Homo sapiens: one gene and its partners. The protein of the gene in region 1 interacts with the protein of each later gene in a pairwise test. Each region holds a gene or a part of one and is shown in the gene's direction. Other genes may lie near its edges.

The links.
Region 2: the proteins of TMEM120B (region 1) and RNF19B interact in binary tests that used the Homo sapiens proteins (3 or more experiments, as listed by UniProt).
Region 3: the proteins of TMEM120B (region 1) and NCAPH2 interact in binary tests that used the Homo sapiens proteins (3 or more experiments, as listed by UniProt).
Region 4: the proteins of TMEM120B (region 1) and SCN3B interact in binary tests that used the Homo sapiens proteins (3 or more experiments, as listed by UniProt).
Region 5: the proteins of TMEM120B (region 1) and CPLX4 interact in binary tests that used the Homo sapiens proteins (3 or more experiments, as listed by UniProt).
Region 6: the proteins of TMEM120B (region 1) and BNIP3L interact in binary tests that used the Homo sapiens proteins (3 or more experiments, as listed by UniProt).
Region 7: the proteins of TMEM120B (region 1) and STOM interact in binary tests that used the Homo sapiens proteins (3 or more experiments, as listed by UniProt).

Annotation. Positions count from the first base shown.
Region 1 is NC_000012.12:121,743,139-121,747,519, forward strand, and holds part of TMEM120B (transmembrane protein 120B), read left to right. Parts: intron 1-490; coding exon 491-609; intron 610-4,381. UniProt on the Homo sapiens protein: Necessary for efficient adipogenesis. Does not show ion channel activity.
Region 2 is NC_000001.11:32,958,071-32,962,451, reverse strand, and holds part of RNF19B (E3 ubiquitin-protein ligase RNF19B), read left to right. Parts: intron 1-4,381.
Region 3 is NC_000022.11:50,510,987-50,515,367, forward strand, and holds part of NCAPH2 (condensin-2 complex subunit H2), read left to right. Parts: intron 1-4,381. UniProt on the Homo sapiens protein: Regulatory subunit of the condensin-2 complex, a complex that seems to provide chromosomes with an additional level of organization and rigidity and in establishing mitotic chromosome architecture.
Region 4 is NC_000011.10:123,647,434-123,651,814, reverse strand, and holds part of SCN3B (sodium channel regulatory subunit beta-3 precursor), read left to right. Parts: intron 1-4,381. UniProt on the Homo sapiens protein: Regulatory subunit of multiple voltage-gated sodium (Nav) channels directly mediating the depolarization of excitable membranes.
Region 5 is NC_000018.10:59,315,194-59,320,039, reverse strand, and holds the start of CPLX4 (complexin-4), read left to right. Parts: upstream 1-1,390; 5' UTR 1,391-1,577; coding exon 1,578-1,744; intron 1,745-4,846.
Region 6 is NC_000008.11:26,406,741-26,410,908, forward strand, and holds part of BNIP3L (BCL2/adenovirus E1B 19 kDa protein-interacting protein 3-like), read left to right. Parts: intron 1-1,259; coding exon 1,260-1,363; intron 1,364-1,486; coding exon 1,487-1,636; intron 1,637-3,623; coding exon 3,624-3,672; 3' UTR 3,673-4,168.
Region 7 is NC_000009.12:121,345,760-121,350,140, reverse strand, and holds part of STOM (stomatin), read left to right. Parts: intron 1-817; coding exon 818-1,021; intron 1,022-1,991; coding exon 1,992-2,126; intron 2,127-4,381. UniProt on the Homo sapiens protein: Regulates ion channel activity and transmembrane ion transport. Regulates ASIC2 and ASIC3 channel activity.

The DNA of each region.
Region 1 (4,381 bases):
GTCTGGAGTGGGGAGGGTGGCTTTAAGGAAAGGGGTATGTGCTTTTCTTAGTTGACCTAACAGGAACTCTCTTCATTGTCAGGATCAGAAACTCAACTCAAAGTGAACACTAAATAAAGAGTGATTTATTGGCTGGGTGTGGTGAGTCACGCCTGTAATCCCAGCACTTTGGCAGGCCGAAGCGGGCAGGTCACAAGGCCAGGAGTTCGAGACCAGCCTGGCCAATATGGTGAAACCCCATCTCTACTAAAAATACCAAAAAAAAAAAAATTAGCTGGGCGTAGTTGTGGGCACCTGTAGTCCCAGCTACTTGGGAGGCTGAGGCAGGAGAATCGCTTGAACCCAGGAGGCGGAGGTTGCAGTGAGCCAAGATCATGCCACTGCACTCCAGCCTGGGTGACAGAGCGAGACTCTCTCAAAAAAAAAAAGAAAAGAAAATGAGCTGTTCATATTCTCCCACACACCCTCCCCCGGGTCCCCTGTTCTTCAGGAGACGCACAGGATCTACAAGCAGAAGCTGGAGGAGCTGGCTGCGCTGCAGACGCTGTGTAGCAGTTCCATCAGTAAGCAGAAGAAGCACCTCAAGGACTTGAAGCTTACACTCCAGAGGTAGGTGCAGCTGTAGCCCGGGGGCTGCCCTGGTTCTGAGGGACAGAAGTCCAACTCAAAACAGGCTGAAGCAGAGAATGGAAATCTCAGTGGAAAAAGACAGGACTGGGAGTTGCTTCAGGCATCACTGGATCCAGGAGTCAAAGGGTGTTTTGGGGCATGTATTTTTCCCTCTAAATTCTGCCTTCCTCTGGATTGGTGTCACTCTCAGGGTGACTGTCCCCTTCACCAGCAGTGCCAGGCTTATATTCTCCAGCCTTGCTTCCTGCCGGCTGTGCCACCCTGGCTGAAGGAGAGTGTCTCTCTTTTTTTTTTTTTTTTTTTCTTGAAATGGAGTCTTTCACTCTGTTGCCCAGGCTGGAGTGCCATGGCATGATTTCGGCTCACTGCAACCTCTGTCTCCTGGGTTCAAGCGATTCTCCTGCCTCAGCCTCCTGAGTAGCTGTGATTACAGGCATGAGCCACTGTGCCTGGCCGAGAGTTTCTCGTTCCCAGTACTTCAGCCGACATTCTGGGTTCAGTCCTCATTGGCTGGGATTGGTTGAATGCCCATTTGTGAACCAATCACTGAGAAGCTGCTTGGGCAGCGCCATGCCGTGTGCTAAGTCTGTGGCCCTGGGCGGTGGAGGGATGGCCACATGGGTGATGGGAGAAGAAGATAAGTAGTTTCCCGGGTGAAAGTTGGGTGCTGTTATAGGAAGGTGCCCTGCCGGACAAGTAAGCAGGCAGCGTCCTTTTGTGGGTGTGGGGTGCCCTCCCCACTGGGGTTGCTGGTGTAGTGGCCACTAGGCTGCCATCCCTGGTGGAGATGTGCTTGAGCTCATAGCTTAGTTCAGTTCCCAAGGCCTGGATCGTGTTCATTTCCTGACACTCATGGTCTCCAGGTCTGGGAAGTCCCCTCCTGCCTGGTATGTGAAGGGGCCCAGTGGATGCCGTGACCCCATTGTCAGGCAGGGAAACTGAGGCTCCAAGTGACTTGTCCCAGGTCACTTAGCTGGGCCTCCATTTTAGAATCTGGGACTCCTGGTCAACTCTTTCCTTGTGGACAATTTTGGAGGAAGGTCCTGATTATAGCTCTCAGTGTGGCTGGCCATTTTGGAAATGGAGGCCCGCAACTAAGGGGTAGAGAGTGTGGATGGCCCTGTGCAAACACGTCACCAGATGTGGCTTTGGAAAAACACATCTTGGTAATGGCAGGGCTCAGAGTCTAGAGTTTCTTCAGATTCTCAGTGATTGCTTCACAGATGGGCACATGGCGAACCCCAGCACTATTGATGGGTCTTTGTGGGGGCCGTGCAGTGCACTGTGGGATAGTGAGTAGCATCCCTGGCCTCTGCCCACTGATGCCAGTAGCACTCCTGCCCCAGGTGTGTCCACCAAGATCTCTCCAGGCATTGCCAGCTGTCCTCAGTTGAGAAGTGCTGGGTTAGAAGGTTGACCCGTGAGTTAGGGTCTTAGACCAAGGACCCCTGTCATTCTGAGATGTGTCTGCTGACTTGTTTTCTGGTTTTGAGAGTTCCGTGTTACCAAAGAATAACAGACCATGATTGGTCGACTGCTTATGCTTTCAGGTGCCTTTTTGTCTGTCTCTTGGTCATCTGTAGGTTATTCCTTTATTTCTATTTTTTAAAATTATTTTCATTCATTCATTCATTCATTCAGAGATGAAGTCTCGCTCTGTTGCCCAGGCTGGGGTGCAGTGGTGCAATCTCGGCTCACTGCAACCTCTGCCTCCCGGGTTCAAGCAATTCTTCCTGTCTCAGCCTCCCGAGTAGCTGGGATTACAGGTGCCCGCCACCACGCCCAGCTAATTTTTGTACTTTTACTAGAGACAGGGTTTCACCATGTTGGCCAGGCTGGTCTCAAATTCCTGACCTTAAGTGATCATCCTGCCTCGGCCTCCCAAAGTGCTGAGATTACAGGTGTGAGCCACCATGCCTGGCCTTACTTTTTTTGAGATAGTGTCTTGCTCTGTCACCCAGGCTGGAGTGCAGTGGCGCAATCACGGCTCACCACAGCCTTGATCTCCTGGGCTCAAGCGATCCTCCCACCTTAGCCTCATGAATACTAGGACTACATGCATGTACCACCATGCTTGGTTGTTGTTTTTTGTTATTGTTGTTGTTGTTTTTGAGATGGAGTTTTGCTCTGTCACCCAGGCTGGAATGCAGTGGTGCTATCTTGGCTCACTGAACCTCTGCCTCCCGGGTTCAAGTGATTCTCCTGCCTCAGCCTCCCAAGTAGCTGGGATTATAGGGGCCTGCCACCACACCCAGCTGATTTTTATATTTTCAGTAGAGACAGGGTTTTGCCATTTTGGCCAGGCTGGTCTCGAACTCCTGACTTCAGGTGATCTGCCCACTTCAGTTTCCCAAAGTGCTGGGATTACAGGCATGAGCCACCACACCCAGCCCCTGGTTGTTTTCTTAAACCGCCCCCCCACTTTTTTTTTTTTTTGAGACAGAGTTTCGCTCTTGTTGCCCAGGCTGGAGTGCAATGGTGCGATCTTGGCTCACTGCAACCTCTGCCTCCCGGGTTCAAGCGATTCTCCTGCCTCAGCCTCCCGAGTAGCTGGGATTACAGGCATGCACCACCATGCCCAGCTAATTTTGTATTTTTAGTAGAGACGGGGTTTCTCCATATTGGTCATGCTGGTCTTGAACTCCCAACCTCAGGTGATCGGCCCACCTCAGCCTCCCAACGTATTGGGATTACAGGCTTGAGCCACTGCACCCGGCCTTGGTTGTTTTCTTTAATTAATTTTTTATAGAGACGGGGTCTTGCTATGTTAGTCAGGCTGGTCTCAAACTCATGGCCTCAAGTGATCCTCCTGCCCTGGCCTCCCAAAGTGCTGGGATCATAGGCGTATGTGCTGGGACTATAACATCATGCCTGCTAGCTATTTCTTTAGAAAAATGAGAAGAAGGCCGGGCGTGGTGGCTCACGCCGGTAATCCCAACACTTTGGGAGGCCGAGGCAGGCAGATCATGAGGTCAGGAGATCGAGACCATCCTGGCTAACATGGTGAAACCCCATCTCTTCTAAAAATACAAAAAAAAAATTAGCTGGGCGTGGTGGCAGGCACCTGTAATCCCAGCTACTTGGGAGGCTGAGGCAGGAGAATGGCGTGAACCCAGGAGGCGGAGCTTGCAGCGAGCCGAGATGGCGCCACTGCACTCCAGCCTGGGCGACAGAGCAAGACTCTGTCTCAAAAAAAAAAAGAAAAGAAAAGAAAAATGAGAAGAAAAATAGTATTGTCAGTAATTATCCCTTGAGCTCATACTATCAAGTATTATTCTAGATGCTCTATGCTGTACTTACTCATTTAATCCTCACCAGGCTATTGTCTGTGAGGTAGGCTTGAGGTTATCCCGGCTTTTCAGGTATGGAAAATAAGGCAGAGAGGTTTAAGGACTTTCTGAAAGTCACAAGACTACCTGGGAGGCAGCATCACTCCTCCAACCCCGAGAGTTGAGATGGGGAACTGCGGTTGCGAGAGGCACTGGGGTAGAAGGTGGGAGGCTGGGGTAGAAGGCGGGAGGCTGGGGTAGAAGGCGGGAGGCACTGGGGTAGAAGGCGGGAGGCTGGGGTAAAAGGCGGGAGGCTGGGGTAGAAGGCGGGAGGCTGGGGTAGAAGGCGGGAGGCTGGGGTAGAAGGCGGGAGGCTGGGGTAGAAGGCGGGAGGCTGGGGTAGAAGGCGGGAGGCTGGGGTAGAAGGCGGGAGGCTGGGGTAGAAGGCGGGAGGCTGGGGTAGAAGGCGGGAGGCTGGGGTA
Region 2 (4,381 bases), on another chromosome or scaffold:
AAGGAATGGTGTTTATGGTGGCTCACTTTCACTTTCAGTTAATAAGTATCAGGAAGGACCTTTTAGGTTCATGGAACTGTCTATGTCTAGTGATCTTACTGGCCCTCTGAGGTTAATTTATATTAAAGTTTTACAGATACTGTTGATCTGTTTTCTTAACCAAACGAATATTAAGAGAACACAGGCCAGGCTCGGTGGCTCACGCCTATAGTCCTAGCATTCTGGGAGACCAAGGTGGGTGGATCACCTGAGGTCGGGAGCTCAAGACCAGCCTGGCCAACATAGTGGTATCCTGTCTCTGCTAAAAATAGAAAAATTAGCCGGGCATGGTGGTGCACACCTGTAGTCCCAGCTACCCAGGAGGCTGAGGCAGAATCGCTTGAACCTGTGAGGCAGAGGTGCAGTGAGCCGAGATCAGGCCACTATACTCCAGCCTGGGTGACAGAGCGAGATTCTGTCTCAAGAAAAAAAAAAAACAAAACACTGCATAGTTAATTTTGGAATAGTACATTAACTCCTTTCTGAGATGTTTCCTTGAGTTCTAAGAAATGTGGCAGATCATCTTTCTGGAAAAGGTCCCTGTTTGTTTTTTTATTTTTCTAAAGTCAGTTTCTGTCTTTGCTCACATCAATAAAAATGCACAGAAAATAATTTTCAAGCTTGGTGACAACTCTCAACTATTTGGAAGTTATTAAAAAATTAGGCCATTTCTTATTTTAGCCAAGTATTATGTTAGTATCCTCCAGATTTTATTTTTTTAATTAGTTAGAAGAATGATAATCATATATATAGTTATATATATAAACAATGTATTTTTTTATATGTGTCATCTACGGACTTAAGGTGGAGTTTGGGGAAAGAAGAAAGCTGGCCTCTCAATACCTGTGTGCCAGGTATATATAATTTAATTCGATACAACCTTGTGAGATAGGTTTAGGTTTGATATAGTTTTATAAATGAGGAAACTAAAGTTTAAGGAAATTGAATGACTTGTTCAGGGTCATATAACTAGTAAGTGGTGGAACCAGGCTTAGAACAGGGGTCTTAATTCCAACCAATGCCAATATTCCTTCCATTCAGCCCCTGTTTTAAAAAGCATTTGCTTGTCAACATAGCCGCATTATTGAGGATGCTGCTGCTTGGGTGCATTTCATTAAGTGTAGCCTGAGGACAACATGGAGAAAGCCAAAGATACTAGAGTCTAGTTTCCTTTCTGATTCCTGTTGTTAACAGCCTCCTACCTACGTTATTTTTCTTATCTGAAATAGGTCTAATTCTTTCCTGACTTGAGAGGTTTAATTAATGTTTACACGGTGTTTTGAGATCTTCAGTTGAAAGTGGTTATAGGGAGTAACTTTAAAATTCTGTTAGTTGCCAAATAGATGCCTGAGTTCTCCCTTGGGATGTGCCTAGTGGCTTTGCATCTCTTTTTTTTTGAGACAGCGTCTCGCTCTGTCACCCAAGCTGGAGTGCAGCAGTGGTGCAATCACGGCTCACTGCAGCCTCAATCTCCTGGGCTCAGGCGATCCTCCTGCCTCAGCATCTCAAGTAGCTGGGAACACGGGTGCATGCCACCAAGCCCAGCTAATTATTATTATTAATATTATTATTATTATTTGTAGAGATAGGGTCTCCCTGTGTTGCCCAGGCTGGTCTCGAACTCCTGGGCTCAAGCTGTTTTCCCGCCTTGGCCTCCCAAAGTGCTGGGATTATTGCTGCCTCTTTTTAATGCCAGGAAAAAAAATAGCTTCTGTGTTCTTACTGGATGTCATGGTTCCCTTGTTTTGTTTTGAACAGTGTTGTTTTGTTTTGTTTTAGAGACAGAGTCTCACTCTGTGCCCAGGCTGGAGTGCAGTGGCATGATCATGGCTTACTACAACCTTGAACTCCTTGACTAAAGCAGTACTCCCACCTCAGCCTCCTGAGTAACTGGGATTATAGGCACGAACCACTGCACACTGCTCCTTTGTTTTATTTTTTTAAACAAATCGTTCTATTCTTCTGGGGCTGGTAGAGGTCATTGATAAACACTAGAAGAGAAGTCCAAGTCCCAGTTACCTCCTATTCCCATACCTGACCATCTTTACTGCCCACAGATAAAGTTCTTGCCAGCCAAATTGATCAGGTCTCCCCTCTGCCTTGTTTGTATGTGCATTTGGTAGGGTGAGGGGGGCATGTGAGCAATCTTACAGGTTCTGATCATTAGTTTTACTATAATTACTCATAATAACAAGAACACCATACATTCAGAGATTCATGATTTGTTTACAGAATATTTGTAGGATAGAGCAAAGAGTTTTGGATTTTTCTTCTCTTACACTCAAATATGGTTTTATTTTATTCATAAATAAGGGAACCAATTTCAGTGGGAAAACATTCACATTATAATTTTTTTTTTTTTGAGACGGAGTCTCGCTCTGTCACCCAGGCTGGAGTGCAGTGGCACCATCTCTGCTCAGTGCAAGCTCTGCCTGCCGGGTTCACGCCATTCTCCTGCCTCAGCCTCCTGAGTAGCTGGGACCACAGGCGCCCACCACCACGCCTGGTTAATTTTTTTTTTTTTTTTTTTTGTATTTTTAGTAGAGACGGGGTTTCACCGTGTTAGCTAGGATGGTCTCGATCTCCTGACCTCGTGATCTGCCCACCTCGGCCTCCCAAAGTGCTGGGATTACAGGCGTGAGCCACTGTGCCCGGCCTCACATTATTATTTAATATACTAAGAACAATATGGCCTAGTATAATCTTAAAACAAGCTGTCAAATGAGATAAAATTAGTTCAAAATACAAATAACTGATTTTTTATAGTTCTTTATAGTCTTCAGACTATAATCTCATTCAGACATAATTTCATTTTAGTCTCATCCAGGTGGATATTGGCGTGCATTTTATAAAGGAGAAACCAGTTCAGAGAAGTTTAAACATGGGGCCTAGTGTTTCATTGCTAATAATTGGTACAATTGATCTTTTACGCTTTTGAGTCTCTGCCCAAGTATGTCTTTTCAGAAACCCCGAAGTCAGGTAACTGTAATGTTTTCCTCTCAAGTATCCTGTTGCTAATCTTAAAACCCTTTCAGAATCTCTAGGAGACTGACGGGTGAGCAAAGTAGGCAACAGAAAATTTCCTGGTGTACAGGGGCAGATCTTCTGTACAGATGAATAAGAAGGGATAAGGCTGTCTTGACCTAAATTCTTTGTGCAGGTCCACCACTCCAGCCTTTCATTGCTGCCTCTGTCCTCTGCAGAATCCTTCCTCCCACCTGATCCCAGGAAACAGTATCAGCTATTGGCCTTCCCAGACAACTAGACTGGACCATCCCATAAACAGGAAGCTTTTTTCATCCCTAGCACATTTATGAGGGAAGATCAAGCAAGCTCTTTGAGCAAGACAAATTTCAGTCAGTGAAGGAGGATTTTTGCTTTCTGAAGCCTCCCTGAACCTCTTCTCTTGATTTGGCTCCATACCTCCTGTTCCACAACTTTTCCCTGCATTCCCCAACTCCACACCACCCCCTCCTCTTGTGCACGTACACCAACCTCCATCCCAATACATCTGTCTCAGATTTGCCAAAGTACTTGTACTAAAGGAGAACATCTGTATCACTCCCCTGCCTAAGACTATTCATTGACTACCTAACCTATAAGATGAGTTCTTATTATGTCTTTGAGAACTTATTTGATCTACCCTTATCATTTAAGCTCCTTTACAGTTTCCAACCATCTTTTTTTTTTTTTTAGATGGAGTCTCGCTCTGTTGCCCAGGCAGGCTGGAGTGCAGTGGTGCAATCTCGGCTCACTGCAAGCTCCACCTCCCGGGTTCATGCTATTCTCCTGCCTCAGCCTCCTGAGTAGCTGGGACTACAGGCACCTGCAACCATGCCTGGCTAATTTTTTGTATTTTTAGCAGAGACGGGGTTTTACCGTGTTAGCCAGGATGGTCTCGATCTCCTGACCTCGTGATCCACCCATCTCAGCCTCCCAAAGTGCTGGGATTACAGGCGTGAGCCACCACGCCCGGCCATCTCCAACCATCTTTTGATTTTATTTTCTATTTTTCACTCACATCACTATTTCCTAAGGTATGTTATAGGCATTACTTGAAAGAAAAATGTTTTGTGAGGAAATAAGCTTGGAAAATACTGAGTTAAACAAAATAAAACAAGTTTATGAGTTTCTTAAATCTTTAAACATGCTAATATGCTAATATGTAGTATAAATCTTCAATATAATGTAATTTCCCCAATTTAGATCACCAGGAAACAGGTTTTTGTTTTTTCTGTAGCATCTTTAAGGCTTAACTCAAACTTTCCCTAAACTCCTTTAATAGTTACCATGCTGGCCTGCCTTTGGTTAGTGTCCTTATTTAACCATAAACCTTATGCTC
Region 3 (4,381 bases), on another chromosome or scaffold:
CAGGCACCTGCCACCACACCCGGCTAATGTTTTGTATTTTTAGTAGAGACGGGGTTTTACCGTGTTAGCCAGGATGGTCTCGATCTCCTGACCTGGTGATCCGCCCGTGTCGGTGTCCCAAAGTGCTGGGATTACAGGCATGAGCCACCGCGCCCAGCCAAAAAAAATTTTATTTATTTATATGTTTTTTTTTTGAGATGGAGTCTCACTCTGTCACCCAGGCTGGAGTGCAGTGGTGCAATCTCAGCTTGCTGCAGCCTCCACCTTCTGGGTTCAAGCAGTTCTCCTGCCTCAGCCTCTTTTTTTTTTTTTTTTTTTTTTGAGACGGAGTCTCACTCTGTCGCCCAGGCTGGAGTGCAGTGGTGCAATCTCGGCTCACTGCAAGCTCCACCTCCTGGGTTCACACCATTCTCCTGCCTCAGCCTCCCGAGTAGCTGGGACTACTGGCACCCGCCACCACGCCCGGCTAATTTTTTGTATTTTTTTAGTAGAGACGGGGTTTCACCGTGTTAGCCAGGATGGTCTCGATCTCCTGACCTCATGATCCACCCGCCTCGGCCTCCCAAAGTGCTGGGATTACAGGCCTGAGCCACCGCGTCCGATCCTGCCTCAGCCTCTTGAGTAGCCGGGATTACAGGCGCCTGCCACCACGCCTGGCTAATTTTTTTTTTTTTCTTGAGACAGAGTCTTGCCCTGTGGCCCAAGTTGGAGTGCAGTGGCACAATCTCGGCTCACTGCAAGCTCCATCTCCTGGGTTCGCGCCATTCTCCTACTTCAGCCTCCTCAGTAGCTGGGATTACAGGCGCCCGCCACCACGCCTGGCTAATTTTTTTGTATTTTTCAGTAGAGACAGGGTTTCACCATGTTAGCCAGGATGGTCTTGGTCTCCTGACCTCGTGATCCACCCGCCTCGGCCTCCCAAAATGCTGGGATTACAGGTGTGAGCCACCGTGCCTGGCCCCAGCTAATTTTTGTATTTTTAGTAGAGATGGGGTTTCACCATGTTGGCCAGGCTGGTCTTGAACTCTTGACCTCGTGATCCGCCCACCTCATCCTTTGAAAGTGCTGGGATTGCAGGTGTGAGCCACTGCGACTGGCCACAAGCCATTCTTCAACTCATTTACCTGTTTGTGGCCTGTCTCCACCCTAGAATGTGAATTCTGCCAGGGCAGGGACCATACTTATGCCCTCTTTTGTCTGCTTAGTAGAGTGCCTGGCACATAGGTGTGGACGTTAAAGTGTTTGTTAAATGCACATGTGATCTGATGACCAAACTTCTCTGCTCTCATGCATAGTTGGCTGAGAAAATACGGGGAACTGTGCTGGGCAGAGCTCCTGTGGATTCAGGTTTTCACATCAAGCAGGGTCCATGAGGACACCTGTTCACTTGGTAAATCTCCTTCCTGGCTTGGTCAGCTCCCTTCCTGCTTTCTTATGTCTGCTCTTCCAAACCTCTGCAGCTTGAAGTCCTGATTTCCTGGTTTCTAGTATTATCTTTTTCCTTCTGTCATTTTCCACACACTACCATGATGTTCTTTTTCTTTTTTTTGTCCTTTGTTTTTTTTTTTTTGTTTTTTTTTTTTAGATAGGTTCTTGCCCTGTTGCCCAGGCTAGAGTGCAGTGGTGCAATCATGGCTCACTGCAGCCTCGATCTCCCAGGCTCAAGTGATCCTCCCATCTCCCAAGTAGCTGGGACTGCAGGCATGTGCCACCGCACCTGGCTAATTTTTTGTATTTTTGGTAGAGATGGGGTGTCACTGTGTTGCCCAGGCTGTTCTCAAACTCCCAAGCTCAAGTGATCCACCTGCCTTGGCCTCCCAGAGTGCTGGGATTATAGGTGTGAGCCATTGCACTGGCCAGAATGTTCTTCTAGTACTGTCATGATCCTACTCTCTTTTATCCATTTATTTATTCATTGTTGTTAGTTGTGAATTGTGTGCCAAGAACCATGTTAAACTTTGAAAAAATAGTGCCAAGCAAAGCAAATGATAATCCCCACTATGGTAGGACTTCCTCTGTCATGGGAAGACGGGTCCAAGAGAGTAACCGCATGGGGGTGTAATAAATATGCATTTGGTGTTTACTTGTGTTAAGCACCTGTTTTATGTGCTTTACACATATGAATGCAGAGTCCTCACAAAAACCTTGTTAGTAGAGGCGTTAGAGATGTACTCTGAATGATAGTGGTTCCTGGCAGATCAGAATCCAGCCTCCACCCCTGCGTGTGACTTTGTGTAGTCAGAAACTGATGGCCAGGCGAGGTGGCTAACGCCTGTGATCCCAGCACTTTGGGGGGCCAAGGTGGCTCACGCCTGTGATCCCAGCAGTTTGGGGGGCCAAGGTGGCTCACGCCTGTGATCCCAGCACTTTGGGGAGCCGAGGTGGCTCACGCCTGTGATCCCAGCACTTTGGGGGGCCGAGGTGGCTCACGCCTGTGATCCCAGCACTTAGGGAGGCCGAGGTGGCTCACGCCTGTGATCCCAGCACTTAGGGAGGCCGAGGTGGCTTACGCCTGTAATGCTAGCACTTTGGGAGGCCGAGGCAGGAGGATCATTTGAGGTCAGGAGTTCGAGATGAGTCTGACCAGCATGGTGAAAACCTGTCTCTGCTAAAAGTACAAAAAAAATTAGCCAGGTATGGTGGTGCATGCCTGTAGTCCCAGTTACTTGGGAGGCTGAGGCAGGAAAATCACTTGAACCTGGGAGGCAGGGGTTGCAGTGAGCCGAGATTGTGCCACTGCACTCCAGCCTGGACAACAGAGCGAGAGACTGTCTCAAAAACAAAAACCAAAACCAACCAACCAACCGAAAAAATCACCAGAAACTTATAAGGGATTTGAAAGAAAATGTATGGTCCTGTGGAGAGTTTGGGGGGCTTAGTTTGTTTGAGATGAAAGCAGTTACTTATTTATGGTGAGCTAAAGAATGTTTAGCTCCAGGTGGAGGAAACCTGGTGTTGGAAGGATTGGAGTTTTTACAAAAATTAGCCGGGCGCCTATAATCCCAGCTACTCAGGAAGCTTAGGCAGGGAGAATTACTTGAACCCAGGAGGCGGAGGTTGCAGTGAGCTGAGATTGCGCCCCTGCATTCCAGCTTGGGTGACAGAGTGAGACTCCGTCTCAAACAAAACAAAACAAAACAAAACAGAAGGTTCCAAGTTGGGACCATAGAGCAGAGGAGGGCAGGCAGCTGGAGAGGGAGGCTGGCCAGCATGGAGGCCTCCCTCTGGCTCCGTTTAGGATTTTGGGTTTTTCCTGCCACTGTTAGGAAAAACCCAAAATCCTAAACAGAGGCACTGAGCAGAGCGTGGAGAGTGGACGGGAGGGGAGTGAAGGGCAGGAGGAGCCCTGTCAGTGCAGAGGTGAAAGGGGAGGTGGTGGGGCCAGAATGGGGGTGACTGTGGAGAGGAACCCCTGGGTTTCTGGGCAGGTGGGTTGGGGGCTATTTGGAGTTCAGTGTGGATGCATTCAGTATGAATCTTGGTGAAGCCATCCAAGCGATGTTTGAAGAAGGCAGCTGAACATGTGGGTTTGGGCTCAGATGGCAGGTCCAACCTGGGGAGGTGAGAAGACAAGTGAAGCCCAGTAGTGTCTTGGGAGTGGGCAAGCCAGCCAGGCTGAGGGTCACTGGAGAGAAGGGCCACTTCTGCAGCTCAGCTTCCAGGCCGCCATCTCCTCCATGTTCCCTTCTTTCTGGACCAGCTCTTCAGGTCCTGAACACCCCCGAGGTCCTTACACTCCGTAGACGACCATGCTGCTGTTTCCTCTCCCTTCCTCCCAGATCTGACAAACACCCTTTATCCTTCAAGAGCTAATGGAAGTGACTCCCCTTGGGGATGGCTTCCCAGCCTCTGCCACTCCTTCGTGCTACCATGGTGCCTAAAATCTTGCCTCTCCCCAGCACGCGCCATGCTTTGGCCATGTTTAGATCATGCTCATTTTCCTGAAGAGACGTGTCCAGTCTCTGCTAGCTGCCTTCACGTTCCCTTCATCTGTCTGGTGAGCCTCTGCGTTTTTCAGGCTTAGCTTTGACATTATCTATGCATGTGTTCATCAAATATTTACTGGACACCAGTGTCAGGCACTGAACAGAAGGCTGGAATTACACTAATGCTGCTCACACAGTTCACTAAGGGACACGATCACACTAAGGGAGCGGCACAGAGGCCCCAGGAATGGAGGGGCTCTGAAAAAGAGTTTGCGTGGGGACAGCTGGGGGTCGGTGTTCCAGGCAGATGGAAATGCAAAATTGAAGAGCTGGAAAGACACCTAGGGGCTTCAAAGTGTCGTTTGTGGCTGGGCACGGTGGTGCATGCCTGTGATCCCAGTGCTTTGGGAGGCTGAGGCAGGAGGATCACTGGAGGCCAGGAGTTTGAGACCAAC
Region 4 (4,381 bases), on another chromosome or scaffold:
TTGGAAGAAGTGTACACAGTATGCCCATCTTTGCCCATTCTCAGTTTCTTTGCAAACTGAGTGTTGTCTCACCAAACTGAAAAGCTGTGGAAGGGAAAGAGAAGTGGTTCAGGACACTTGGTTGTTAACTGTAAGAAAAACAGCTTCCCTTCGCCAGGCGCAGTGGCTCACGCCTGTAATCCCAACAATTTGGGAGGCCGAGGCGGGTGGATCACCTGAGGTCAGGAGTTCAAGACCAGCCTGGCCAACACGGCGAAACCCCATCTCTGCTAAAAATACAAAAATTAGTCGGGCATAGTGGTGCGTGCCTATAATCCCAGCTACTAGGGGGACTGAGGCAGGAGGATTGCTTGAACCTGGGAGGTGGAGGTTGCAGTGAGCCAAGATTGTGCCACTGCACTCCAGCGTGGGCAACAGGGCGAGACTCCATCAAAAAAAAAAGAAAGAAAAACAGCCGCCCTTCACAGATACAATTTCATTTGATTTGCATGCAATTCCAATATTGAACAATAATGCTGGGTTAGATGTGTTCCCCCTTCCAAAGTTGATTTTTTAATATGATGTACAATATGAAGGGAAAGAGTCTTTCCATTTACTTTCTGCATGCATGAAAAAAAGTTTCCTTATTTCCTTTGTTAAAGCATGTAATAATTTTTATTTTTTAAAGAGATTTAAAAAATAATACAATACAATAAATAATTAATACAATAAATAATTAATACAATAAAATAATAATAATTGTATTAAAAAAATTAATACAGACGATGTCTCGCCATATTGCCCAGGCTGGTCTCTAACTCCTGGGCTCAAGTAATCCTCCTGCTTCAGCCTCCCATAATGCTAGGATTATAGGCATGAGTCACCATGCCCAGCCTTTAAAATAAATAAATAAATAAAACCCTATATTTGCCTGTGCATCACAGTTTACAATGTAATTTTCAATACATTGCTTGTTTTGGTCCTCATGTCTATCCCTGAGGTAGTCAGGGGAAAGAGTGCTATTTCCAGTTTAGAGATGAGAAAATGAGCTCGGGGAAGGGAAAGGACTTGCTAGAGAACCCTTGTTTTCTGATTTCAGTCTTCCAGTGCTCCTTCTAGCACCTCTCATGGACACATGTGCTACTATGCACAATCGCCAGGAGGGCACCTGTCCTCCCATTTCTCTTCTGAGCTACCGTCCCATCTCTCCCCAACACCATCACCTGTCCTAGGGCCTCACTCACTAGCACCTAGTACCTTCTCTGCCCTTCTTCTCCAGGCCTGCCCTTCTAGTTGCCCTGTGTGTTTTCCTCTCTTCCCCTGGTGATCTTTCGTGCATCCTATTCAAGGCCCTAAGTGACCAGCTAAATTGACAGAACAAGTCACGTCAGGGTGTCAGCATCTAAAAATAACCTCATTTATTACCCCTTTTTGGAAATTGTTTATATTCTAATCAAATTTTTCATTATCTCAGTGCAAAGGAAAGCATTCTAGAGCAATCTCAGGAGGAAAAATTGGGCATTGTCCAAAGAAGAGAAAGATTTGAGGGTATCAGAGAAGCTGGTTCATAATTCTTTATTATCTGCCTCATGATAGATGGATGCTACTACTCCCTAGTGAAATATGATCATTATTAATAATCATGTTTTTCCTTCTCATAAATTTCTTCATTATTATTATGGGAATTGAAGAGAAGAACAAAGGTCAAATGATTTGGTCAACATTATTCCAAGAGTTTGTTACTTTTAGTCAGCAATGTAGTTTGAGCTCCTGCCATATTTACAGCCTTCTTTGAATACCTAGAGGGTTTCATAGAAAGAAGGGCAGTGGTGGACTGGGTGCTGTGGCTCATGTCTGTAATCCCGGCACTTTGGGAGGTCAAGGTGGGTAGATCACCTGAGGTCAGAAGTTTGAGACTAGCCTGGCCAACATAGTGAAACCCTGTCTTTACTAAAAATACAAAAATTAGCTGGGCGTGATGGCAGGTGCCTGTAATCCCAGCTACTCAGGGGGCTGAGGCAGGAGAATCGCTTGAACCCAGGAGGCGGAGGTTGCAGTAAGCTGAGATCATGCCATTGTACTCCAGCCTGGGTGACAAGAGTGAAACTCCATCTAAAAAAAAAAGAAAGAGAGAGAGACAGAGACAGAGAGAGAGAGAGGAAAAAAAGAAAGAAAGAAAGAGAAAGAAAGAAAAAAAAGAAAGAAAGAAAAAAGAAAGAAAAGAAAAAGAAAGGAGAAAGAAAGAAAGACAGTGGTGTGCTGAAGACTCAAAGGATGGAGAAACAGACATTACCTCTTGAAGCAAGGAGCAGCAAGTCATACTGCAAAAGGCAAGCAAACAGAGGTGGGGGAACTTTGTGGCCATTTTTCAATGTACTCTTCAGGATCATACGAGCAGAGTTCTCATGCCCTGAAACTAGATTTTGACCAGAAGGGAAGGAGTGGGACTTGCTCTATGATGATACCTTGGATTATTGTTGCCTTAGGGGCAACCAAGAAAAGAGAGGGGCTACCCCACTTTCTGCCATACCCCATTTGCCATCCTGACTGCTTTCCCTCCATTAACTATAAATGAACTAACTATGCTTCTATCTCTGCCATCCCATCTACTTGTTCACTAGAGCACATCACCTCTCACCTTTTCAAAGATGTTAATCCAGCAAATCATTTTCTTGCATTTCATTTCTTTCAAACTCCACCAGCTCTACTGTCATCTTCACCAAAACAAAATCGTCTTCCAATCCGATCCCTGTACCAGACCTCTTAACTGTTTTGATTCCACCCTTGTCCCTTTCACTTCATCAGTTTATTCCCAACACAGCATCAGATCATATGATCTTGTACAAATTAGATCCCATCATTCTTCCTCTCAGAACCTTCTGCTGCTCCATGCAAATGCCATAAACTCTAAGCAAATGCCAAGGTTCTAACATGGCCAATAAGACCTGCTGTGATCTGGCCCTCCCCATCCCTCCTACTACTTCATCCCCTTCTATTCTCACGTTGTTTGCTGTAATTTCCACATTGGACTGTTTGCTGTCTGTTGAGCATGACAAACACACTCCTTTGGGCCCCTTGAGCCCTTGAGTTGCAATTTCCTGTGTTTGACATGCCTTCACACAGATATGTGTATAGCTTGTATCCTCATTTCTTTTCTTCAGCGCCTGCTCAATGATACCTTCTCAGAAAGGCCATCCTCCAATGACCCTGTGCACACACTCTCTCCTGTTTTATTTTTTCTCACAGCACTTTTTACTATTTAATGTTGCTGTTTTCCCTCTCCCTCCATTGGAATGTAAGCTCCATAAAACAGGGATTCTTTTCTTTTGTTCTCTGGTGTATTCTTCGTGCTTAGAATAATGCCTGGCACCCAGAAGGCACTCAGTATATTTGGGAAATAAACGAAAGATAGAATAACATGAATAATGACATTTGTACAAAGCACATTCATGTAAATTAATCCATAAAATTCTCATGATAAACCTACTAGACAGATGTAACTTTCAGCATGATGTCGATGAATAAACTGAGTCCAGAGAGATTACATAGTACATCAAACCCAACTCTTCAGTTGCCAGATTCTATCTTCACCCTGCCTCTATAATTGTAACTGTGCATTCCTTGAGACTTCTTAGTCCACTTCTGAGTTTGTCAACATGAAATGAATGAATTTATCTTTGCCAGCTCTCATTAAATATGAATGTGCCTTGAGGTTCCATACTACACGGAGTTCTTGCTGCATACGCTCTACCCCTCTGCCCACTCACAAACTTTTGCGCAAACCACATTTCCTTTTTGTTTAATCAGATCTATAATCAATACTTCAGACTCATCATATGCTGAAGATGTTTCTGATCAGTTCTCCCTAGATGTGAGTCCTCTCTCCATTAACGTGGCTCACCATCTGCAGAAGCAATAGGTCCTCTTGAAGACTGTCAGATAAGACTCACCCAGCTTGCTGGAGAGTTGAAAACCCAATTACATTTATTTTACCTTGATGTTTACAACTTTAAGTTAATTCTAGTGCCACTAGTTTTTAAACTCCATGTTTTAAAATAAATACATTGCCTTCTAAGTCAATCAAACACAGTTTTTGGACTCAAAATTAATTTATGGCAGTGTCTTATTAAGCTCTAAATAAAACCTTCCTCTGCTTTTAGGAAAGAACGCTCTGCCAGGAGATGAACAGGCTGACCATTAACAGTGGACTAGTTTTTAAATGTAGTGTGTATTATTTCTTTTTTTTTCTGGGGGTTCTGTTTTTATTATTAATTCATGAAAAAGTAGCATCAGAAGGGATCTTCAAAGTCCTAATATAAGAATCTGCGGTGACCATCATGTTGTTTTTATTTTTTCAAGAGATAGGGTCTTACTCTGTCAACCAGTCTGGAGTGCAGTGGTG
Region 5 (4,846 bases), on another chromosome or scaffold:
TTGACACCCTCACCATTAATATTTCCTAATTCCTCATACAATGGAATTTTTAGAATAGATTTTATAATAAATCTAAATAATTACTTATAATAAAATGTAGACCGAACAGACAGAAACACAAGGCTGTGGCTTTTATTTTATGGTTTGAAAAGTTCTATGAGACAACATTAATTAGTAACATTCCTCAGTGGACTGCAATGTAGTTTATTATAAATGGTAATTTAGAGATAATGGTATGAACGTGTTAAGTTCCAAGCAACCCATCTAAAAGAGAAAGTGGAACTCAATATTGATGGGCATTCTCCTCGAAGCCCTGAGTACAGCTTATATTTCACCCTAAATTATCTTTTTTAGCCTTTCATATTGAGACCATTTAAGCAGCATTTTAAAATAGATTACTAAAAGGGAAAGCAGACGATAAAATATATAAAGCAAGCATTTTAGGCAAGAATCCAGATTATGTAATTCTATATGATCAGAGAGATAATCACCTGGTTTCTGAGAGGACTCATGCCTTCAGATAAAATAACAATGGATTACATCTCTTCCTTCCCACCCCACCCTCTTTGGCAGGCTTTAATTAGAAAGATACTAGTGTAGATTGAAGTCTTAGCCATACTCAACTCTTCCCTTGACCTGAAGAAAACCACAGCCATAGAGAATCTGGTGGGATACAAAACATTGTCAGTTTCATCCAAGTACACCAGTGAGCTTAAATAGAGCACCCAGGAGGTGCACTCTTTATGCAAGAGAAAAAAGGTGACCCCTTACATATTGATGATTTGACTCACATAATGGTCTTACCTTCTGGATCAGAGCCTTGAAGTGTCAAGCACATCATTTCCATATAGACAAGTAATATTTCCATGCAGGAGAAGGCTAAGATAATCTTCCAGATGTAAACCAAGGACCTGCTGTCTGGGTCTTTGCATTTGTCAGTTGTGTATTTATGTGCGGGACACAGTAACTATTGAAGCAAACCGAATTCAAGCAAACTAAAAAGCAAATCCTTGCATAGTACTTAAAGTCCAATGAGATAAAATGATGGATCGAAAGGATTATTTTTGCTTAATGAAGCATTCTGGGTTTTGAGTCTCATTGGACTCAGTTTTTCAACAGGATGTTTTGCTCAAGGGCTGGAATTTGGAAATTCCACAACAGCTATATAATCAGTCAGCTCTGATTAATTTAATTGAAACAGGACTCTTGATGAAGCCCTGCTGTGCTTATAATTAAAAATTTAGAAAGGGGTAGATGATGTGGGGATTTCTTTTTCCTGTGAAATTAGCTGAGTGTATTAATTCAGAAGGTAGGCAGTTGCCTCTGATTGTATGCTTCGGTAATCTGAACCATCTGCCTCTATATACTAAGGAGTTCACCACTTTAATCCAGCTTACGGCCGACAAACCACTCTTCTCTATCAGTATGCCCTTGAATAGATGAGGTTGTGCAAAGTCCTTTGCTCTTAAATGTATTGCTGTCATTGAGAATATTTGGAGGTTTTCTCTTGGGTTTGTTTGGATTTTTTTTTTCAGCTTTTGTCTGAATTTTGGTTTTATTTTTCTGGGGCAGAGAAAATGGCTTTCCTTATGAAAAGTATGATAAGTAACCAGGTAAAGAATTTAGGATTTGGTGGTGGGTCTGAAGAAAATAAAGAAGAAGGAGGTGCATCTGATCCTGCAGCAGCTCAAGGGATGACTAGAGAGGAGTATGAGGAGTATCAAAAGCAAATGATTGAGGAGAAGTGAGTACATGCTATTTCATTTCCCTTAAAAAGCAAAGGAAATTCATTCTGGCCATACCTTCTTCAGTTCTCCAGTTTATTTCTCTTTGCTTTTTAAGATGCCTTTCCTTTTGCCGTTTACCTCTAACCCAAGGAAAGGTTGTTCTTCTAAAGTAAACGGTTCCCTAACATCAGCAGCTACTATGTTCTATGTTCTACATGTATGAATGGAAATGAACAATAATAAATGAATCTATATGTTGTTCTTAAAGCAGCTTAACACTTTCTGGTCTAGGCATGTTTTGATTGACCTCAATTTAATTATTTAGATGAAAAGTGGTAGGTTTAACTATCTTTACATTCTTTCTAAACTTCACCCTCTTAGCACGTAGAAAGTCTTCAAATTGTAAGAATTCAGACCTTATACCTAGAAAAGGGCCTAAAATAACATAGAGGGCAGCTTCTTTGATCTTGCATGTGAGAAAAAAAAAAAAAACCCAGGAAGCATAACATGACAATTATGTCATAAGACTTGGCTTATCAAAGACTATGAATGGATTTGTGGACTGTTTAATATGGAAATTCTAAACATACAGAAAAGTAGAATAGTAGGACAAATACCCACATATACCTATGACATAAAATCAACAGCTTACAGTTTGCTACATTTGCTTAAAGATTAAAAAGATAGATGGTAGATAATAGCTTTTAAAGTAAATTACAGATGTCATGTACTTCACCCCCAAATACTTCAGCCACCTTCCTCCAAAAAATAAAGGCATTTTCTTGGCTATATAAAATATAACAAAAATAAAATATAAAATATAAGCAACATTTAATTGGGTATTATAGAATGTGAATATCACCAACAACTTTTCACCACTTGAAGACTGATTCTGAAATAAATGTAATCTCTGTGTAATTTTTAAATGTTTAAGGTAGAATTAAGATTCTTTTAATAATCAGTTAAGAAATGAAACATCAATCTAGAGGTTAAATGTTTATCATATGTTTCAAAAGAAAAGTATTTCTTTTTTGCCACCAGGACTCTTTTGCTAATGATCAATTACATAATAGTTGCCTAAATCCTATCGCTAAGATGATTATAGGTGAAAAGGTTAATGACCTGGAGGAAACAAAGAAAGTACAAAGACTACGTTTAGTGGAAACCTTGTCTATTGTATTTTTCTGAAAGAAATCATGGCTTATAGACTACCTAGAATACATTATGCTTGGTTCTGCAGTAACTTAAAGTTGGTTTTTAAAAAACAGTCAATGCAACTAGCAAAAATGATGGTGCTAAGACTTGGGCAAAAGAAGCAGCATTCCTTGAATATTGGCTGATTTTACCTATGGCATGCAAAAGAACAAAAAGCTTAAAAGCAAAATAAGTACTGTGTAATGAAGGATAGAAGACAAAAATCAGCATCAAACATTCTCAGATCAAGTAGGCTAATGAAAACAGAAATGTAGACTACAGTTGTGAGCATGCAAAATATCACCTAATATGTTCAAGCAGCAGATCCGATTGCAGATAAGGCATCTATTTGATTAACTAATGTCCTAGTTTTCCTTAATTTTATATCTGGACAGATCAAAGCTCAAAATGGCCAAATCATACAGTCAATCAGCAGACTGAGTTGTCAGCTACTCAGCTTTTTGCATATGTGTGTGAGAATATTATATATTTATGTAGTCACTCAATGTAAGAAATAGTGTCAGGACAATGGAGCATTTGGCTTCCCTATGATAAAGAGGGATGACTTTCAGTCCATTGTTTGAGTTTTCAAGAATTTCACCACCTAGAATGCAATATGTAGTAGGCATTAAAAATAATTCATCACAAGATAAACGCAGAGAGAGCTACAAACAGTTTAGTATATATAATAATTAAAATCAATGTTAGCAAATGAAAGCCTCCTAAACCCATCCTCATCATTGTAGGAAGTGGGGAGACTATATGAATTATAAATAAAAAACTATTTAGCAATGCACTCTATTTAATAATGCACATTCATTTTTATTTTCTTTCTGTGTTCAATGTGTGTGTGTGTGTGTGCGCACGCACCACTGGTAACATTAGTACTGAAAGAGGTCTAAACATAAATAGACTATCTGGAAAGGAAATAAAACAATAGTCTGTTTCTCCCGCCATTTTCTCAATTATATTAAAATGCTTCTTTGCCATAGTTATGCTTCAACAGTTTCTACAATATCATTTGTAACTTGACTCTGACCTTTGTTTTATTCAGTAATTGTTTGGACCCCTAGTATGAGCATAGCATTGTGAGGAATGTACTGAAATGGAAGAGATGGGTTTTCTTCTGCAGGAATTTACACTTTACTTGGTGGGGGGAGACTAGCTAGCTGCATGTGACTATAAACAGAGCAACCAGCTTTTCTGCGTGATTTGTAGACTGGCTCTGGAGGACTGGAATGTAACTCTGCGTGGCATTAGTATCAACAAATCGATCAATGGGGTTTATAGTTATTTGATTTTCAACAAAAGCGCCAAAATAATCAGACCAGGAACGGAAAGTCTTTTCAACAAATGGTGCTAAACAACTGAAAAACATTGAACTTTGACCCCTACTTAACACTATACACAAAAATTAATTTGTCATGCATCATACACGTAAACATAAAAGCCAAAATTATAAAGCTTTTAGAAAAAAAAGTAGGAGAATATCTTTGCAACTTGAAAGTAGATGAAGATTTCTGTATCATGACCCAGATTGGCAATGACCATATCAATGACCATAAAATTATTAAATGATAAATTCAACTCTAAGTTAAAAACTTTTATACGTTAAAAGATGCCATTTAGAAAATAAATGGGCAAGCCAGACTGAGAGGATATATTTGGAAAATATATCTGACAAAGGACTGGAATCTAGGAAATATGAAGAACTCCTATAACTCAATAATGAAAGCAAAAACAATGGGCAAAAGATTTGAAGAAATACTTCAGAAAGATAGATACATGGCCAATTAGTACATGAAAATCTTACTGGAAATTACATGAAAAGCTGCTTAATATCATTAGCTGTCTTGGAAATGGAAAAAATTAAAATCACAGTAAAGTAGCACTCCATAAACACCAGTATGGCTAAAATCAAAAAG
Region 6 (4,168 bases), on another chromosome or scaffold:
GAGCCCAGGAGTTCGAGGCTGCAGTAAGCTGTGATTGCACTCTGGCCTGGGTGACACAGGAGACCCTGTCTCCAGAAAAAAAAAAAAAATGCATGTAACATGCTTGGAATAATATTTGCCCCTTTAAGTGCTCAATAAATACTATTATTTATTTCCTCATCACATCTCTCACTTATTTTTGTTTTACTTCTCATCATTTTATTTTTAGCATATCCTTTTATTTCCTTTTATTTTTTTAATTATGAAATTTTTTTTTTTCTTTTTTTTGTTGAGATGGAATCTCACTCTATCACCCAGGCTGGAGTGTAGTGGCTGGATCTCGGCTCCACCTCCCAGGCTCAAGCAACCTCCACCTCCCAGGCTCAAGCGATTCTTCTGCCTCAGCCTCTCAAGTAGCTGGGATTACAGGTGCCCGCCACCATGCCCGGCTAATTTTTTTTTGTTTTGTTTTGTTTTGTTTTTTGAGGCGGAGTCTCGCTCTTTCCCCCAGGCAGGAGTGTAGTGGCGCGATCTCTGCTCACTGCAAGCTCCGCCTCCTGGGTTCACGCCATTCTCCTGCCTCAGCCTCCCGAGTAGCTGGGACTACAGGTGCCCGCCATCACGCCCAGCTAATTTTTTTGTATTTTTAGTAGACACAGGGTTTCACTGTGTTAGCCAGGATGGTCTCGATCTCCTGACCTTGTGATCCGCTCACCTCGGCCTCCCAAAGTGCTGGGATTACAGGCGTGAGCCACCGCACCCAGCGTGTAAGTTTTGTGTTTTTTTTTAGTAAAGACGGGGTTTTACCATGTTGGCCAGGCTGGTCTCCAGCTTCTGACCTCAAGTGATCCGCCTGCCTCAGCCTCCCAAAGTGCTGGGATTATAGGCATGAGCCACTGCACCCGGCCTAATTACGAAAATTTTAAGTGCATACAAGAGAGAATAATATAATGGACCTCCATGTAAGTATTGCCCAGATTTAACTCTTATCGAGGTTTTTCATACTTCCCTTAGCATTACATCCCAAAGTACAGTCTTATGCAGTTCCTGTGCTGTGCTTAGATATCCCAACAGTGAAGCTCACTCAGGTTGTTCTGAAGATATTACATACTCTGATCTTACATTATTTTTCAGCATTTTTTAGAAAAGCAACATGTTTGTTATCTAAAATTTCTGAGACACAACCTTATGAGTTTGGTATCTTTTCTGTCTAGATTTTTCTTTGTATTAGGAGGAATTGGTCTTCCTTTTTTTCTTAAAGTTTGAATTCTTCTTTACAGTCAGAAGAAGAAGTTGTAGAAGGAGAGAAGGAAGTCGAGGCTTTGAAGAAAAGTGCGGACTGGGTATCAGACTGGTCCAGTAGACCCGAAAACATTCCACCCAAGTGAGTTCTCACATGTTTCTTGTCAGTGGACACAGTTGATCTGCGCACGCTTACAGGCAATGGGCCTGGTAATCCCCACGATATTTTCAGCAAATGACATCTGCCTCTGAATTTCTTTCTCAGGGAGTTCCACTTCAGACACCCTAAACGTTCTGTGTCTTTAAGCATGAGGAAAAGTGGAGCCATGAAGAAAGGGGGTATTTTCTCCGCAGAATTTCTGAAGGTGTTCATTCCATCTCTCTTCCTTTCTCATGTTTTGGCTTTGGGGCTAGGGTAAGTACCGGTCAACTCCTGAAGTTTTTTCCATTCATTTTATCCTCTTATTTTCAGATTGAAGAAATGTATGTGAAAGCAGTTTTTATTGCTTTACTTTCAATGTTTTAGTGCAAATAAGGTGAACTTAAAAAAGTGGGTGCACAATTGTTCTACAAATAAGCATTTTTAATAATAGTAGAGTGTGTTTTCTTATTTGAAAATAAGATGTTTGGCCTGGTGTGGTGGCTCATGCCAGTAATCCCAGCACTTTGGGAGGCCAAGATGGGTGGATGACCTGAGGCCAGGAGTTCAAGACCAGCCTGGCCAACATGGTGAAACCCGGTCTCTACTAAAAATACAAAAATTAGCTGGCCATGGTGGTACATGCCTGTGGTCCCAGCTACTTGGGAGGCTGAGGCAGGAGAATCGCTTGAACATGGGAGGCGGAAATTGCAGTGAGCCGAGATCATGCCACTGCACTCCAGCCTGGGGGATAGAGTGAGACTCCATCTCGGAAAAAAAAAAAAAAAAAAGAAGATGTTCATAATAATCCCCTAAATGATCAAATGTAAGCGGACTCCTCTGTGATTGATTTTTCTTTTTGGGTTTTGTTGTGTAATATTTAATCTTGAGTAATTTATGAACTAAACTAATCTTTAGCATGTACATTTTGTGGTCAGTGCAAATACCTTTTTTTCATATGGGAAAATACATGATTACATTGAATAGTTTTTTTTAATGAAACTGGTAGGTTGATTGGTGCTAATTTTTTCCTTTTTTAACTTTGTAGTATTTTCATTTATTTTGCTAAAATCAACCTCATATTTACGTGTAATTCATTAGTTTCTTAGCCACATCTTTTAAATAAATTGCTTTTTTTCCTTGATTTAAACAATTGAGGAATTACACTTCTGAAAGATTTTAGGAGTTAAACAGTAGCTGTTAATTTTTTTCAAGACGTATGTTGTGCTCTAAGCATGCCCAGTGGGTCATTTTCAGTATAAGATATGCAGAAGATGGGGTCATCCTTTTTCTTCCCTTTAAGGAGCTCAGCATATTGGAGAGAGATTCTTAGTCACGACCTCAGAAACTTGCATACAGCTTTCCACACACCCGTCTTGTCTCTCTTGGGTGCTTGATCTGCTTTTGTGAGGGCAAGGACAGTAATCAACAAACAGCAACCTAGAAGGGGTTTGTGCAGAAGGGGACTGTGTGACTGTTGCGTGGGGGTTGATGTGGGGCAGGTGTAGGAGTTTAATACATTGCTGCCTATACAGCAGTTCATTGCCCTTAAGCGATTGGTGTCTATACCTTGCCGTCTCTCTTTCAGTCATCTTCAGATTGTTTGTCTTGGCTGTAAGTATAACTATTGCTATAGATGAATGTAAAAAGAGTGTTTAAAAAGTTCGTTGCTTTAATTGCACTGGAGGTGAAGCTAGTTACATACTTTCCTTAACTTCCCTTCTGCTTTTGCTGTTGAAGAGGCCAAATACTTTCTTGGCATGAAAAAGTATTATAAGGCCCCTAATCCTTAGGAGTTATTAGTAAGAGCTGTCTTTAAAGCACTGGCAGCTTTTAAGGTTTTTTTTTTCTTTTGTCCTACATAGAGCACCAGAATAATTTCACATATTACTATATTTTTGTGTCTGAAATGTCAGTAGAACCTTCTGTCCACCAAAGAGGAACATCTTGAAGGAGTTGGGCTGCTTTATTTACTCTGTGGAGGGATCTGTTCTCTCTGGCTTTACTTTGTCTAATCACTACCCCTTTGCTGTCGAGCCCCGATATTTAATGAGTAAACAAACTCATATAAAACCAGTTTGGCCGGGCTGGTGACTGGTTTTAAGAAAGTCAGTGATGATTTCACGGTGTTTGGGGAGCGGTACCCACAAACCTTTAGAGCCTTTTACAAAGACTGAAGAGTTTTAAGTAGAGTTCAACCTGTGGACAAGCTGGTATAGAACTGTTGAAACAGGTGAAACATGATGCTTCTGCTTCCTTTCAGCATCTATATTGGAAAGCGACTGAGCACACCCTCTGCCAGCACCTACTGAGGGAAAGGAAAAGCCCCTGGAAATGCGTGTGACCTGTGAAGTGGTGTATTGTCACAGTAGCTTATTTGAACTTGAGACCATTGTAAGCATGACCCAACCTACCACCCTGTTTTTACATATCCAATTCCAGTAACTCTCAAATTCAATATTTTATTCAAACTCTGTTGAGGCATTTTACTAACCTTATACCCTTTTTGGCCTGAAGACATTTTAGAATTTCCTAACAGAGTTTACTGTTGTTTAGAAATTTGCAAGGGCTTCTTTTCCGCAAATGCCACCAGCAGATTATAATTTTGTCAGCAATGCTATTATCTCTAATTAGTGCCACCAGACTAGACCTGTATCATTCATGGTATAAATTTTACTCTTGCAACATAACTACCATCTCTCTCTTAAAACGAGATCAGGTTAGCAAATGATGTAAAAGAAGCTTTATTGTCTAGTTGTTTTTTTTCCCCCAAGACAAAGGCAAGTTTCCCTAAGTTTGAGTTGATAG
Region 7 (4,381 bases), on another chromosome or scaffold:
ACAGTTAATCAAGTCAGTGTTTTATTCAGTAAAGTTACCACCATTATCCAAGATGAAATAATAAGACAGCTCTTACGTGCCAGGAACTTTTCTGAGCACTTGAATGTATTTAACGCATTAATTCTAGCAAGAATGCAAAGTAGGTACTATAATTAATCTCTACTTTACAAATGAGAAAACTGAGTCCCAGTGAGTTTTAAGTGATGGATGTAACTATTTTCCTGGAGCCTCTCACTCAGATAACTTCTTAGCTTAAAACAAAAATATGTCATGTTTAGCATTTTTATGTAGCATGCTGTAAAATATGTTTTGATGCTGACCTTGCCCTTTAAAAACATTCCCCATGCACTTTTTGTTCCAGTAATATTGTGGAACTTGTAGTTTATCAAACCTTGACTCTCTAGTGCCTCTCTCTTGAATATTCTTCCACTCCACCCAACACCCTCAGAAAAATTGTATTCCTTTCTTCAAGATTCAATTCAGGTATCACCCCTGCCACCCACAGCTGCCCCTAAGAGTTTCCTTTGATTCCCTAACCTCCTTCAAAGGAGGAACCAAGTTTTTTTCCTACCTTAATCCCTGGTACCTAGTACAGTGCCTGCTGTTGAGTGATATCTCAATATTATTTGTATGATTGAATGAATTAATGGACTTGAATAATTTATTTTATTAAATTTTAAAAGATATAATTAACTTTCTGATGCCTTACTAAAGAAAATCAGCTAGTGTTATAAGATATTCTGTAGAATAACATTCCTTACAGTTATGTTAAAAAAAAGTCGTTGACAGATGTAAAATTGCTTCCTTCATCTTGTAGATCCTCACAAAGGATTCAGTGACAATTAGCGTGGATGGTGTGGTCTATTACCGCGTTCAGAATGCAACCCTGGCTGTGGCAAATATCACCAACGCTGACTCAGCAACCCGTCTTTTGGCACAAACTACTCTGAGGAATGTTCTGGGCACCAAGAATCTTTCTCAGATCCTCTCTGACAGAGAAGAAATTGCACACAACATGCAGGTGGGGAGTACGTCAATGCTGTTACCCCCCAGAAGCTGAAAAATGAAGCAAAGAGTCAATGGTTGTTTGAGAACCTTTTATTAATTCAAGTTGTGGGGGTCTGTGACCGTTTTTTTTTCTTCATAGTAAAATTTTTCAAATTTGGCAGGAGGGGACATTTTTCACATTAGCAGTTCATGAGTTCATAACACTCATGCGTACATTTTTTTAAAATTTTCTTCAGTGTGTATTTTTTTCCAGAATCAGTAATAACCTTTTTGTTTAGAACAGAGGCTATTCTGCAAGATAGTGTAGGTATTCCTAAAGCTTTATTCTGTGTGTGAGTCCCATGAATTATAACTGTTGTGCTTTCCAGTCTTTCTTGAGTAACAGATATTCAGTTAAGCATAGCTTATTCAAAAAAGATAAAGTGCTATAACTCTGGATTCTTATTATTTGTATAGACTTCATCGTGGGTAAAATCTATGATTGTATTTGATATGCACAACAACCTATGAAATAGATGTGTGGTTTCATTCCTGACATTCTAAAGGGAGGAAGTTGAAGCACAAAGGAGTAATATGACTTACACAGAGTCACATTAGCTCAGGAGTTGGCAAACTGTAGCCTACAGGCTGTAGTTTTTGTAAGTAAAGTTTGACTGGAGTATAGCCACAGCCATTTATTTATATATTATCCATGGCTGCTTTTGACTACAACAGCTGGGTTAAATAGTTGAGACAGAGACTACAAATAAACAATCACTATATGGCCCTTTTAGAAGAAGCTGCTAACCCCTGCATTAGCTTGTTAGCAACAGAATCAGGATCAGTGAGCCAGCCCCTGCGTCACCATTCGTTCCACCGTGGGGTAACTGTCTCTCCACAACTCTCCCCAGCACCTTATCTCCTCCAAATCCCAATGAATACAGCCTCTGTCAGCATCTGGGCTGGGCTGAGGAGATTTAGCTTGCCTTCTCTCTTCCTAACAGTCTACTCTGGATGATGCCACTGATGCCTGGGGAATAAAGGTGGAGCGTGTGGAAATTAAGGATGTGAAACTACCTGTGCAGCTCCAGAGAGCTATGGCTGCAGAAGCAGAAGCGTCCCGCGAGGCCCGCGCCAAGGTAACTTTTTTTTTAAACTTGTTTTTCTTACTGAGTTTTCTCTTTTATTAATAATTATAAAAAAACGTAAAACATGCTTGCTGTAAAAACTTGAAATAATCTTGAAGTGGTAAAGTTAGAAGTGAAAACCCTCCCCGTAACTTCAAATCATATTCCCCCAGAGGTCACCACTCCTAACAGTTGAGTGTATTTGGATTTTATTTGACCAGGTTTTTGGATTACTGGCTTGTTTGTTTTACAAAAGTAGGGTTATACTGCACATGTTGTTCTGCGCTCTGCTTTTTTCATTTAATATTAATATCTATGGACGTATCAGTACATGTAGAGTTACCTCATTCTTTTATGACTGTGTGTACCATACTTATTCTCCCGATTCCATATTAAGGTCAAATTAACAGTTCCAACTTCGGAGCAAGTGGGTCATCATTCCATCCATACCACCCATCTCTTACTTATTTTTGGCTTCTTTTTTGTTCTGTTTCTTTTCTCAGGCTCTTTTTCCCTTTTACTGTTTCCTATTCCTCATTCTCTCTTTTCCTCTTGTTTATATTCTCTTACTTTGACATCTGCCTTTTTTCTTCCTTCTTTTCATCATCATCTGCCTATGTCTTAACCCTGCATGGGTGGCATGGCCCCTCTGGGAGGCACTGAGGAAATATTTGTTAACCTAACCTAGAAAAGAGTATCTTTAAAGATGATAATGTGTAAAATTTCAGGGATATCTCACCAAACCCAAAGGTAGGAAGTAGGGGCAAGTCTCACCAAAATTGGAACCAGAAGGCAGTTCAGGGAACTAGTCATTCCCTTTCCTGTGCCACATCTCACTGTAGATAGCTTGTGGTGGAGAATGTCTAGCTCCCAGGTTTAGATGTCTGCCAGGTGAACACTAAAGAACACAGACCAGCCCTAATTCCACATTCACAGAAGAGACAGTCTTTTTGGTCCAACTTTGGTCAAAGTGCAAAGATAGCATAATAATATGGTTCCACAGCCCTATGCCTGTGAATGGGCTGAAGAAGAAGAGCAGTTTTCATAGGAGGAGTTGCTGTGGACTTGACAAATCTCCCAAGACACAAGGAGCAAACCAATTTGTTGTTAGAAAATAGTAGTAGCTGGTCATCACTGGCTGACCACAGAACGCTGTTCTTTTCTTAGGATGCCCTTTAAGCCACAAACTGGTCACTATAATTTCTTAGCCAGCATCAAATAGGATAGTAGCTCATTTGACATGCGACTTCAGAATTTTGCATTAACCAAAATGTTTAGGTTTTCCTGGTATGATGATTGTTGCTTTGTGATGATAACCTGGTAGTACTACAGAACCCTCTAGTGCTTTCTTTCAAAACTGTTACGTTTAGAAGATTAAATTATGTTTACGATGTTATTAAATGTGCCCTATCATCTCCTTATTTTGAAAATTAGGAATTGCTTTTAACTAGAATATGTTATTAGGCAAAAGCCTCATTTCCAAACCAGATTGAATAGTAGAATGTACCATACATATACTACGTAGAATGTCAGAGCCCAAAGGATCCTCAGAGATTATCTTCCATAGGTGGCAAACACTTAGCCCAGATGCTAGCACTCCATCCTGCTATTCCCATGCTAGTAATTAACCACAGCACTGTTTTCCTCTGAGCTTAGACTTGGCCTCAGAACCCTTCTATAGCACTCTGGGTAACAACCCTCAACTGCTTAGAGTTAGCTCTAAAAAACAAAACTTGAGGCCAAGCACAGTGGCTCACGTCTGTAATCCCAGCACTTTGGGAGGCTGAGGTGGGTGGATCACCTGAGGTGAGGAGTTCAAGACCAGCCTGGCCACCATGGTGAAACCCCGTCCTTACTAAAAATACAAAGAGTAGCCTGGTGTGGTGGTAGGCGCCTGTAATCCCAGCTACTGGGGAGGCTGAGAAGGAGAATTGCTTGAACCCTGGAGGTGGAGGTTGCAGTGAGCTGAGATTGCGCCACTGCACTTCAGCCCAGGCGACAGAGCAAGACTTCTTCTCAAAAAAATTAAATTAAATAAAAAATTAATAATAATAAAAACTTAAAAAAAAATGAAACTTGTTTGCCATCCCACTATTCAAAGGAAAAATTGAAGCTCTGAAAAGTTAAGTGACGTCCGCAAGGTCGCACAGTTGATTAGTAGCAGTGGAAATTAGAATTCCCCTCTGCTCCTCATTGCCTCCTCTAGTACTGACTTCCCAGGATGGGCTATGAGCCTCTTCCATAGCATTCTTAAGAGTTTGGAAAGA